4 separate regions of the Homo sapiens genome follow, and all the other regions are linked to region 2. Evidence: fine-mapped expression QTL. A gene starts in region 2. Each other region holds a variant in brackets. All regions are shown on one strand. Distances are from middle to middle.

Region 1 (2,606 bases), 97 kb before region 2:
CAGGCAGGGCCTGCCTTGACAATCATCCCTTCAAGGTGAAGACAACAAGGTCAGGGGCCCACTGGCCCCCCCATACAAAGGGGGAACTGAGGCCTGGAGGGACTGTCAGGCCACTGTACCATTAGGGACAGAGCTTGGACCTGTACTGAGGCATCCCAGGCCAGGGCCAGATCTCTCTCCTGTTTAAGGCCTGTTTGTAGCTTTTGCATCACATGCTCAGATGGAACCATGGTGCTAGCCAAACCAGACTTCCTAGGCCTGCCACTCATGCACTCTGACCCCTGCTCTGACCCTGTTCCTGGCGATCATGAGAACTCTCCAATCTCTACCCCCTATCCATTGCCCTTCCCCACAGATTCAGACTTCTTGTAGCCACATCCTGGAGCCCTATTCAGGTCAGAGTCAGAGTGGCTCTGCCCCTGCCCCCTGGTCTGGGATCACAGGTCATTGCCCTTTGTCAGATGCAGCCATCCAGGTGACCGCTAATGAAATACACGAACCCATTGGAGAAGACATGCACAGCTAATGCCATGCAAATTGGCACAGAGGCAATCAGCCTGACTCTAAAAGCTGCCCCACTGGCCGCAGGCTGGCTCATTGTCTTTTCTGTCAATTTGCATCTCATTACCCAGAAGGCTGTGCTCACTGGAGGTTAAAAGAAAAAAAGCACCAAGCAAGCCCCACTGTGTCCTGCCTCCAGCAAGGGCAAAGCCCACGAGTGGGACAGGGCTGCCTGGAGGACTGCCCCTCAGAGGTACACTCCACAGGGAGCCCCCCATCAGCCCTATCACCCCCATCACCCACCATCAATATTATCCCTGCACCACCAGAATGCTACTCCATTCACCATCATCCCCATCATCACTGTTGTTCCCCCCACTTAACCAGCACCAATGTCCCCATGTTCACTGCCAACATCCTCCCCATCACCATTGCCAATATTACT[CCAT/C]CATCATCAGTGTTACTCCCATCACCATCAGCTCCACCATCACTACCTTCATCCCCATCACCATAGTCATCACTTCCATCATCACCATCTTCATCTACCACCATCAACTCTACTGCCAACATCACTTCCATCACCACCTTTACCATCACTGTCACCACTACGACCATCACCCCACTGTGGTCACCTCTGCTAGTGCTCATGTCTCCTGGTAATCACCACTACCACTGTGCTCACTGCTACCTGCACCATCACCTCTGTATCCCTGAGAAGAGTCTGATGAAGAGACAGAGACAACTCATTCTTCACCTTTCTCTGTCCATCACCCTCCAGCATCATCAGAGGGTTGGGGAACCTGTAAACAAATGACTCAGTGACCAGAGAGCTCATAATCAACCTGGATATTGGTGCTTGTATCTAGGTACCTTGACCTAGGTGCTTGATCTAGGTATCTGTGACCTTGGACATGGAGAACTGGCCCTGGGCACTCTTACTAAACACACCACAGGCAGGGTCTGCCTTGATGATCATCCCTTCAAGGTGAAGACAACGAGGTCAGGGGCCCACTGGCCCCCCTATACAAAGGGGGAGCTGAGGCCTGGAAGGACTGTCAGGCCACTGTACCATTAGGGACAGAGCCTGGACCTGTACTGAGGCATCACAGGTCAGGGCCAGATCTCTCTCCTGTTTAAGGCCTGTTTGTGGCTTTTGCATCACATGCTCAGATGGAACCATGGTGCTGGCCAAATTAGACTTCCTAGGCCTGCCACTCGTGGGCTCTGACCCCTGCTCTGACCCTGTTCCTGGCGATCATGAGGGCTTCAGGAGGAAAGCCCTCAAGGCCAGGGGGTGGAATGGGTGCTTGTCCACTCTACCAGGGCCCCTGAAGAGACTGGGGCTTAGCTTACTCTCCTGGTTCTAGTAGGACCTGGGACTGGGCAGACAGTGACCAGCAGCCACAGTACCCCATGGGGCAGAGCCAGGAGCTGCATGTGTAATGCACAGAACTGATACCATTCTCTGAATCCTGATAACCTCCTCCCTAACACGGGGCTTCTACTAGTCCCAGCCTCATAAGACTGTGAGGATGAAGGCAGACATGAGAGGAGAACAGTGAGCATCCAAGGCTGTCTCAAAGGGCACATAAACCCTATGGGAGAGGAGTATGGTTAGGCTAAGCCAGGTGGGCTTTGGGAAAGGGAGCACCAGGCAAAACTTGAAGGGCAAGGTCAGATGAAGGGGATAAGGGAAGTAATGCCCAGAGGGCAAAGATGTGGGGGTAGGAAGGAGGGCAGTGGAGGCCAGGGGAGCTGATTTAGGCCTTCGATTCTCCTGGGCCTCCCTGGACTCAGGGATTGGTGCGGTAGGTGTTTGTGCTTATGAACATGGCCCAGCCTCTTCCACAGGACCTCATTTCATTATCTGCACCTTGCTTCACACACATGCTTCCAAAAAGCCCCAAGAAGCCCAATCATTATTCCCATTCCCCCGACGAGGTCACCAAGGCTCAGAGAGGGTGACTCACCCACCCAAGACCACACAATGATCAAATGGCAGAGCTCAAACTGAATCCAGCTTTGTCCATGCCAGGGATGGGCTCTGACAACTCCCTGTGTCCCTGGGCAGCAAGGCGGGATATGAACCTAGGCCAAGACAAAGC
Region 2 (2,606 bases):
TGTTGGCAGCAGCAGCAGGCGCAGGCAGGGGTCCTTCCCACCATTCACCTTCTGCCCGGACCCCAACGCCTTCACCTCCCAACTGGGCTCTCCAGGGTACTCTCTCCTCAGGTGGAGGGGGGCCAAGAACAGGGGACACTGCCTCTGTGGCACTGGCCACAGCAAGAAGGTGCTCGCATCATCAGCATACAGCTCCCCACTAAAGGAAAAGGCCCTTGAAGGCAGGTGTGGAGATGTCCCTCACCTCTGGCTGTAAAGCGCCGGATTCCCACCAGGGAGGGAACGTGGGGCAGATGCGCGGCTCCAACTCCGCCGGACAGGGGTCGCTGGCCGCCCCTCTCACCCAACCCGGGTTTCCCTCTCACCGGGTCAGCGGCAGGGGAATCAGCTGACAAGCTCGGACCGCCCCCCCCCAACTCCTCCCGGGGCTTGAAGATCTTGCCTTGCCTCATTCGGGGGATTTGGGGGAAGCAGGGGCACCGCGGGGAAGTTTCGCGACGCAGCCAGAGCGCCGGGACCGCGGCTGCCAGCCTTCGGGGCTTGGGGCCGTCGCCCCCGGGCGCAGCGGGCAGCCGGACCCAGCGCCTCTGCCCTGGCGCGGAGCGCAGGGAAGGAGTAGCGCGGACCGGGGGCAGAGCGGGGCGCAAGGCTCGGCCGGGGTCTCGCGGCCGGCCGAGGCCACTTACGTGTGCTGCTGGGGGAAGCTGTAGGCAGAGGCGCCGGGGGCGGCGAGCAGCGGTAGAAGCGGCAGCAGCAGCCACAGCGGGCGCGGGGGCCCGGACGTCGGGCGCCGGGTGCCGGGGCCAGGGTGGGGGCCGCAGCCGGGCCAGGGGCGCGCAGTCCGCGCTGGGCCGGGCCGAGAGGCGCCGCAGGTCCGAGCCGGCACCGCCATGTTTCCATTCAAGATGCGGCGCCGCGGGGAGGGGGGGCAGTGGCGGCGGCGGCGGCGGCGGCGGGGTTGGGGGGGCGCGGGCGGCGGGCGGTAACTCGGCCTCTCCTCCGCCGCCGCCTTCTCCGCGAGGGGCCTCCGGGGCTGCACGGGCCGCAGCGCCTCTGCGGGCTGCGCGCTGCTATCTCCCTGCAGCGCTGGCTCCAAGCGCTCTGAGCGCCCGGCCCGGGACCTGCGCTCAAATAGCAGCCGCCGCCAACCTGCCGGCACCGCCCTCTTCTCTCCCTCCCTCCCTCTCTCTTCCCGGGCTGGCCCGCCCCCGCGCGCCCCCGCCGCGGCCACGCGCCCACCCGTGCCCGCGCGCCTCTCGTCCCCGCGCAGCCCGAATCCTGCCCTACTGGCTCGGGCGTCCTGCGCCCCAGCTGCTACCCGAGCGCCCCGGGTGCGCCCCCGCCCCCACACCTCAGACCCTGCCGCTCCTCCCCACCCCACCCGCGGGAAGAGTCCCGGGCCCCGCGGCCCAAGGCAGGAGCATATGTGACCCTTTTGGGGGCTCGACCTTCAACAGGCTTAAGGCCTAGAGTCACAGGTTTAATGGTGGAGTGACAGCTTCAGCGGAGACCAGAAAAGGAGGCATGCTGAACTTACAGCCCCCGTGGCTCTAGCTATCTTTAAGATTTCTCTCTGTCGGGGGCTTGCACGCCCGGCTGCTGGCAGAAAGGGCCTGGACCTCCTGGTTCCCTAAGCGGAAACCTGGGCACGGCTGTACGGTTGTGGGGGGCTGGGGACGGCAGGATGCAGCCCTCTGCAGCCACTCGCTTCGCTTCCCTGGGCTGAACAGGCACTGTGTGCAGGCCTGTCCCAAGCCCCAGTTCCCGGAGTTTGCACAGCCTCTGTTTAGATTCTTCCAGAGCCAGGAAGCTCATCTCTGCACAACCCAGTCCTTTCTGTCCTGGAGGCCCCTGGCTCTTCCCTGCTGTGGGCAGAAGACTGGGGCTGGTGTCAACCTTGACTCCACAGCTTGTGGCCCTTTCAGAGCCTCAGTGTCCTCGCTTGTGAATGCTTGTGTGGGTGCCCACTCCCATTTCCAGGATGAAGTGAGAATGGGGAGAATCTCTTGGTAAACTGAAGCATTCACAATGAGGGGAGACCATCCCTAGGATTCTACTGAAGTTACCCTGGAACCCAGCTCTGCCTCTGGTGCAGATAGGATGAGAGAATGCTCCCCACCAACTTGACACAGGGCAGGACCCCCTCAGCAATAACTGCCCACAGACCTGGCCTATCACGAGGAATGAGGGATAGTAACCAGCTGGGCAGGATGGTTCGGAAATGTCCAGATGCCCCACCTCATGGTATCAGTGGCTCTCCTATCACCCACTCACAAGTCAGCCCAAGGAGGGCTTGCAGTTGAAAGGGAATAGTAGCCCCTGGACTGAAAAGGGTAGGGGTAGGGGCTGGAAATAGGGCCTAGGACAGCCTTCCCTTGCTGCCTAGTCCTGCCTTGGCTTCTCCAATCCCAGCAAACCAGGGCTTGACAGGGAACAGTTTCCTTCATTTCTTGAAGTGTCCTCCTCCCTTGACCTGAATGAGCCTTCAGGGGCCAGACAGGTTTGCCAGCAGATCCCAAACCATGAGACCCCAAAAAAAGTATCAGAGGAAGGCAACGCAGGGGCCAGGGGCCTGGTGGACAGGTGGGACCTGATGGACTATGGGA
Region 3 (2,606 bases), 91 kb before region 2:
CCTAAGTCTGTTCAGCTGCTGAGCCCAGGCCTTCCAAGCTGCAGCCTGAGATGGTCACACCTGTGTGACCAGGACTCCCAGCACTGCCAGCAGCCTCTGCCTGTGGCCCCTGGGAAAGAACGAATGGGGCTCTGAGGCTTGGGGAGGAGCAACATGCCCAGGGTCACACTACAGTCCAGGTGCCAGCTCCCAGACCCTGCTCCTAGCAAAGGTGCATGGGCTGAGGGGCACCATCCTGGAAATCCCCCCACAACCCCCAAACACCTTCCCATGGCAAGCCACGCTGGGCTTCTCCTCTGGTTAGAACACAAAACACTGGGTAGGTCTCCCTTGACTTCCAGGAGGCTCAGGGTGAGCCCATGGGCTCAGCTAGAGCAAGTGCCTAGTCTGCAGGCTGCTCACCTCGGCCTCTGCCCCGTCATTGTTACTCATATTCTGCAATTTTACTGGATGTGCTTTTGAGAAGAGCTAATTAATACTTTGCCAAATGAGTTGGGGAATCAACCAAATTAAGCTATCTCTGCCCACAACCCCCACATCTGGGCAGGGTGGGTTGCCCTGTGAGGCTAGGCTGGCTGTGGGCCCTGCTCTGAGCCACCACCCCAATGGTGGGCAGGCCAGCATCTGGCAGGCGCAGCCGTCTCCCTGGAAAACGAGACATTTCTTATTGAGATAACGAATCGCTCCATTTAGATCCAAATTAACCTCCCCCAATTACCCCATTTTCTACCACATTTCACCAGATCGAAATCCCCTTCTGCCTGCACAGTCACGTGCTGAGCCCCTCCTTGCTCCCAGGTCTCGTGCATCCCAAAGCCATGGGCACTCAACAGCCCTAGGCGGCCAGCAGGCGCCTTCCCTCATTGGCCATGTTTTTCTTTTCTTTTTTTTGCAGGGGGTGGGGAGGGAGAGGATAGGGGTGGGGGAGGCTTGATGCAGCTGCTGCTCTGAGGAGTGGGAATTTCTATTTTATTTTTTTAGCTCGTTCTTTGAAATAAGGATGCAATATGGGATCAATTTTTGATGACAGTGAAGTAAAAGGGGAAAACAGTAGCAATTTTCTTTTCTGAACATGCCCTATTTAATGGAAGGATGTCACCGTGGAGTTTTATCTGGAGGGGAGAGGGCCTGGTTGTCAGGGACTCATGGTCAGAGA[T/C]GTCTGGCACCATCTCAGCCTGGGGGGGTGCTGGGCACCCCCTCCCTGGTCTCCCGGTGCCCTCTATTAGGGTGACTGCCAGGGCCCAGGACTTGGGACAGGGAGAGGCCGAGTCTCCATCTTCCCTCACCTGGCACGAGGGTGGACCCTCCCCACCTTGTGCTCTGCTGGTCTCAGGCTGCATGAGGAGTCTAGAGCTAGGGCCCCAGGGGATCAGTGTGAATTAGGGTTATAAAATCCCACCCAGCTGCTGCTGCCGCTGCCACCTCTGTGTTAAACCTAGGAAGCGGAGCTGGTTGGGGTAGGGGGGTGGTGGTGGAGCATGAGGAGGGGGAAGGGAGAGGCCTGAATCCTGAGCTGGCCAGGACTGGGGGCAGTCAGGGTATCTGGTGCCTTGTCTCAGGGCTCAGGAAGGAGAGATGGGGGTAAGAATAGGGCAGAAGTGAGGGTGTTCCTCAGTGGGGGTGGTTTTCAGAGAATACTGCAGGGGGAACTGTTGCCTCTTCTACCAACTCTCTCCAACCCCTGACCCTCAGCCCTGGGTCAGAGACCATTAACTGGAATTGGGCCATGGCTGTGTGGAGTCAGGAGGCCTCTGGACCAAGCACTGCGGGACTCTTGAGGCCTCTGCTGGGAGGGTGGGATGCTTCCCCGTTGTAAGTTGCCCCAAGTGAGGTTGAGGTCCCTAGGCTGGCTGAGCATGGTGGCTCACCCCTGTAATCCCAGCACTTTGGGAGGCTGAGGTGGGTGGATCACTTGAGGCCAGGAGTTCGAGACCAGACTGGCCAACATGGCGAAACCCCAACTCTACTAAAAATACATAAATTAGCCGGGTGTGGTGACGCACGCCTGTAATCCCAGTTACTTGGGAGGATGAGGCAGGAGAGTCACTTGACTTTGGGAGGCAGAGGTTGCAGTGAGCCGAGACCGTGCCACTGCATTCTAACTTGGGTGACAGATTGAGACTCCGTCTCAAAAAATAAATAAATAAAAGGCTCCTCAGCTGCATGAAGCAGAAGCCAGGGTTTCGGTTGCCAGGGCCCCATTTCCCCCATGAAACCCACCCCCCTAGTCAGTTTGCCATGCAGCCCCCTTGAAACCTGGGACATCCCTAAAGTAGCTGAGCCAGTCTTGGCCCATTCCTTCTGATGTCTAGTGCCCTCTGGCCATCTGTCTTCCAAAGCCTCCTTTACCTTGCAGTGCAGGGACAGAAATGAGTTAGATAGAACCATACCTCTGAGGCCCATGCAGCACAGCTACAGACATCTCATTCACAGATGCATGCAGTCACGCCAGGCAGCTCTGGACCCGCAAAAACAGCACACAGTCATGCCCAACCCCCACAGGCCCACACAGAGCCCAAGGTTAGAGAGCCACCGAGCCACATACCCGCACCGTGCAAGCGTGGCCAAGCCCAGGTATGGTCCTTACAGTGAACAGCTCTGCCTTC
Region 4 (2,606 bases), 53 kb before region 2:
GACTAGGGGGTGACTGTGGATTTTAGGCATGGGGAAGGCAGAAAGGGCATAAAAGGGCAGACCCAGCCTCAGAAGCCATACAAAAACAAGCCCAGCCAAGAAGGCCCAAATCAAGGCCAGGGATGAAAATAGTGTCAGCCTGAAAGGACACCATTAAGAAGGGTCTTAAAGCGTGGCCCTGTGATGCCTCCGCCACACCACACTCAGAATGACCTTGAGGCCATGAAGAGAGGGTGGCCTGGGGCGGGGGGAGCCTGTACTCCCAGGACTGCCCACCACACTCCCCATCAGAGACACAGGCATTCAGCCCGGGCCCTAGGGACTGAGTAGGTGGGAGAGAGACCTAGGGCTGGGTTCTGGGGCTTCACCCATGAAGTGGAGCTGCTTCTCCCACACAATGACAGGACTGTCACCACCCAAGCTCACAAGGGCTGTGGAGGGGACATAGTGGGAGGTGAGGCTCCATGTGAGGAGGGGTCCATGGAGCCTGACTCAAAGCAAACTGCAGCCTCCAGAGTTTGTGAGCCCCAAGCCACAGAAGGGGGCAAGCTAAAGGTGGCCCCCAGGTCTCAACCAGTCCTCTCAGTGGAGACTTAGGCCAACCTGAAAGCCCAATATTCTTGATTTGCCCCCAAAATCACTATACAGCCCCACCTTCCATGCACACAGGACATCTAAAATGGGGCAGGATTCACACATTCTTTTGACAGCGGATCGGCCTGGCTCCCTTTGAGGGCCCTCGGGTCAGGTGAGGCAGTCCCTGACCCAGTTCCTGTGTGGGCTTCCTGTGCAAATGGGCCCCAAGCCCCACCTACCCCCGCACCGCCTCCCCTACCCTGCCCCCGCCCCGTGTAAACAGAACCCGCCACTCTCTCCCAGGAGCTGCTAATTCCTCGCCAGAACTGCTCGGACGTGAAATTGGAGTGAGACAATGTGTGTTTAAGGAAATGAATCTCGAATCTTAAGAGGCTCTGGAGCCCGCCCTGCACCCCCATCACCCTGCTCTCGCCCACCAGAGCCAGGAAAGGAGCACTTGGCATCAGAGAAGAGAAAGGCGGAGGTGACATTCAGCGCCAAATTAGCAGCCGCCACAGCCAAATATTGTACTTGCCTCCAAT[CT/C]TCTTTTATTTTTCCAAAGAAAAGGCTTTTACAGAGTGAAAGAGGCTGTTGGAACACTGAGGCTGATGATCGTTTGTAAAAGGCAGGCCTGCTGCGCGCATGCCTGACTCAGAGCCTTCCCTTCCCATCGGCAGGCCTCCCCTCCCTGCCCACAGTCACATCCGCAAGACGCCCGCCGACGTCACACCCCACCGCACCAGCCACACTGGCCGATGTCACGGGTGTCCTTAGCCAACAAGACCCAGGGGCTCTGACCCTGTGCCAGTCCTGGACATGGGACCTGCCTCTGAGCTGTCTCCCCGCCTACATGGGGCCCTTGGAAATGAGGACTCATTTGTGGTGTGTACAAAACCACTGTGCCTACAGAGGCCTCAAAAGTGACCAGTCCATGACCTCTGTAGGGGCTCCTCATCCACCCCAATGGCCCTTAGTGCCCCCTCCATGGACAGCCACCCTGCCTCTGCCATCATCACTTTTATCCCTCCCACCAGGGGCTGTTTTTTTTTGAGACGGAGTTTCACTTTTGTTGCCCAGGCTGGAGTGCAATGGCGCGATCTCGGCTCATTGCAACCTCTGCCCCCTGGGTTCAAGCGATTCCCCTGCCTCAGCCTCCCGAGTACCTGGGATTACAGGTGTGCGCCACCATGCCCAGCTAATTTTTTGTATTTTTAGTAAAGATGGGTTTCACCATATTGGCCAGGCTGGTCTTGAACTCCTGACCTCAGGTGATCTGCCCACCTCGGCCTCCCAAAGTGCTGGGATTACAGGCATGAGTCAACACGCACGGCCCAGGGGCTGTTTTAAGGCCCCTCCCCAGGCTGCCTGACACTTTGTTGAACACTACCAGTCATCCTGAAGTTCAGGCCCCTGAACCCAGCCTACCTCCATCCACGCTAATTAACCCACTGAGCAGGCTGAGCAGATACCCTCTGCATGCCCCTCCACTATTTTCATCCCTGGCCCCTTGACCAAGTGCTTGGACAACTTCCATGGGTTTTATCGATGGTACAGACTTAGCCCATGTCTCCCATTTCCTCAAACCTGGCTGCCAGGGGCCTGTCCAGTGAGAGGATGGGGAGCCTGCTGAGAGGCCCCCTAGTTCCCACCTGGATGGTGACTGGAACCTGGCCCTGTCCCACAGGTGCACCCTTCAAGCTCACACTGTGTCTCAGAGCCCACCTCAGACCCCACTCCTAACCAACCCCAGGAGGTGGAGGCGTGGCAATGGTCCATTTTGCAGGTGGGATACTGGGTTCAGAGAGTTCTTGTGACTCACCCGAGGCCTCAGCGCTGGCAAGAGGCATAACCAGAACCTGGGTCCAAGCTGCACAAGTCTCATGATGTGGATGCTGGGCTGCATCACCCAGATTACCCCTTCGGCACGAGGCCCTCATCCCCTCACTGCCAAGGGTGTTGCCTGCTGACTCCTCTCATCCGAGTCCCTCCCCAGGCTGTACCCCGAGCAGATGTGGCTCCACTGCCTGTGG

Alleles and levels. Positions count from the first base shown, and alleles are read on the strand shown. Sizes are in standard deviations (SD) of each study's normalised expression. Not every link is listed here.
In carriers of allele T in region 3, the expression in CD4 T cells of the gene that starts at base 1,103 in region 2 tends to be higher than with C alone (large effect, 0.85 SD a copy in BLUEPRINT).

What was found. PIP is the estimated chance that this variant, and not a neighbour inherited with it, causes the effect. A credible set is the group of variants that fine-mapping cannot tell apart.
Region 1: its variant is the best candidate, but not a certain one, in a credible set for the expression of CACNA2D2 in cerebellum (GTEx, PIP 0.78).
Region 3: its variant is the best candidate, but not a certain one, in a credible set for the expression of CACNA2D2 in CD4 T cells (BLUEPRINT, PIP 0.68).
Region 4: its variant is the best candidate, but not a certain one, in a credible set for the expression of CACNA2D2 in whole blood (TOPMed, PIP 0.83).

What each region holds. Positions count from the first base shown.
Region 1 is chr3:50,405,667-50,408,272 of GRCh38, forward strand. All of the region lies in intron 3 of CACNA2D2 (calcium voltage-gated channel auxiliary subunit alpha2delta 2), which reads right to left. Among named protein-coding and RNA genes, the nearest start is that of TMEM115, 47 kb to the left of the region's middle. The variant CCAT/C (reference allele first, on the strand shown) is at 947.
Region 2 is chr3:50,502,532-50,505,137 of GRCh38, forward strand. CACNA2D2 (calcium voltage-gated channel auxiliary subunit alpha2delta 2) reads right to left here and starts at 1,103. Exons shown (of 38, transcript NM_006030.4): 1 at 687-1,103. The coding sequence starts at 892. RefSeq lists enhancers at 1,214-1,722, 1,723-2,231.
Region 3 is chr3:50,411,717-50,414,322 of GRCh38, forward strand. The region is part of intron 3 of CACNA2D2 (calcium voltage-gated channel auxiliary subunit alpha2delta 2); the gene reads right to left. Among named protein-coding and RNA genes, the nearest start is that of TMEM115, 53 kb to the left of the region's middle. RefSeq lists an enhancer at 196-695. The variant T/C (reference allele first, on the strand shown) is at 1,157.
Region 4 is chr3:50,449,518-50,452,123 of GRCh38, forward strand. All of the region lies in intron 2 of CACNA2D2 (calcium voltage-gated channel auxiliary subunit alpha2delta 2), which reads right to left. Among named protein-coding and RNA genes, the nearest start is that of CACNA2D2, 53 kb to the right of the region's middle. The variant CT/C (reference allele first, on the strand shown) is at 1,119.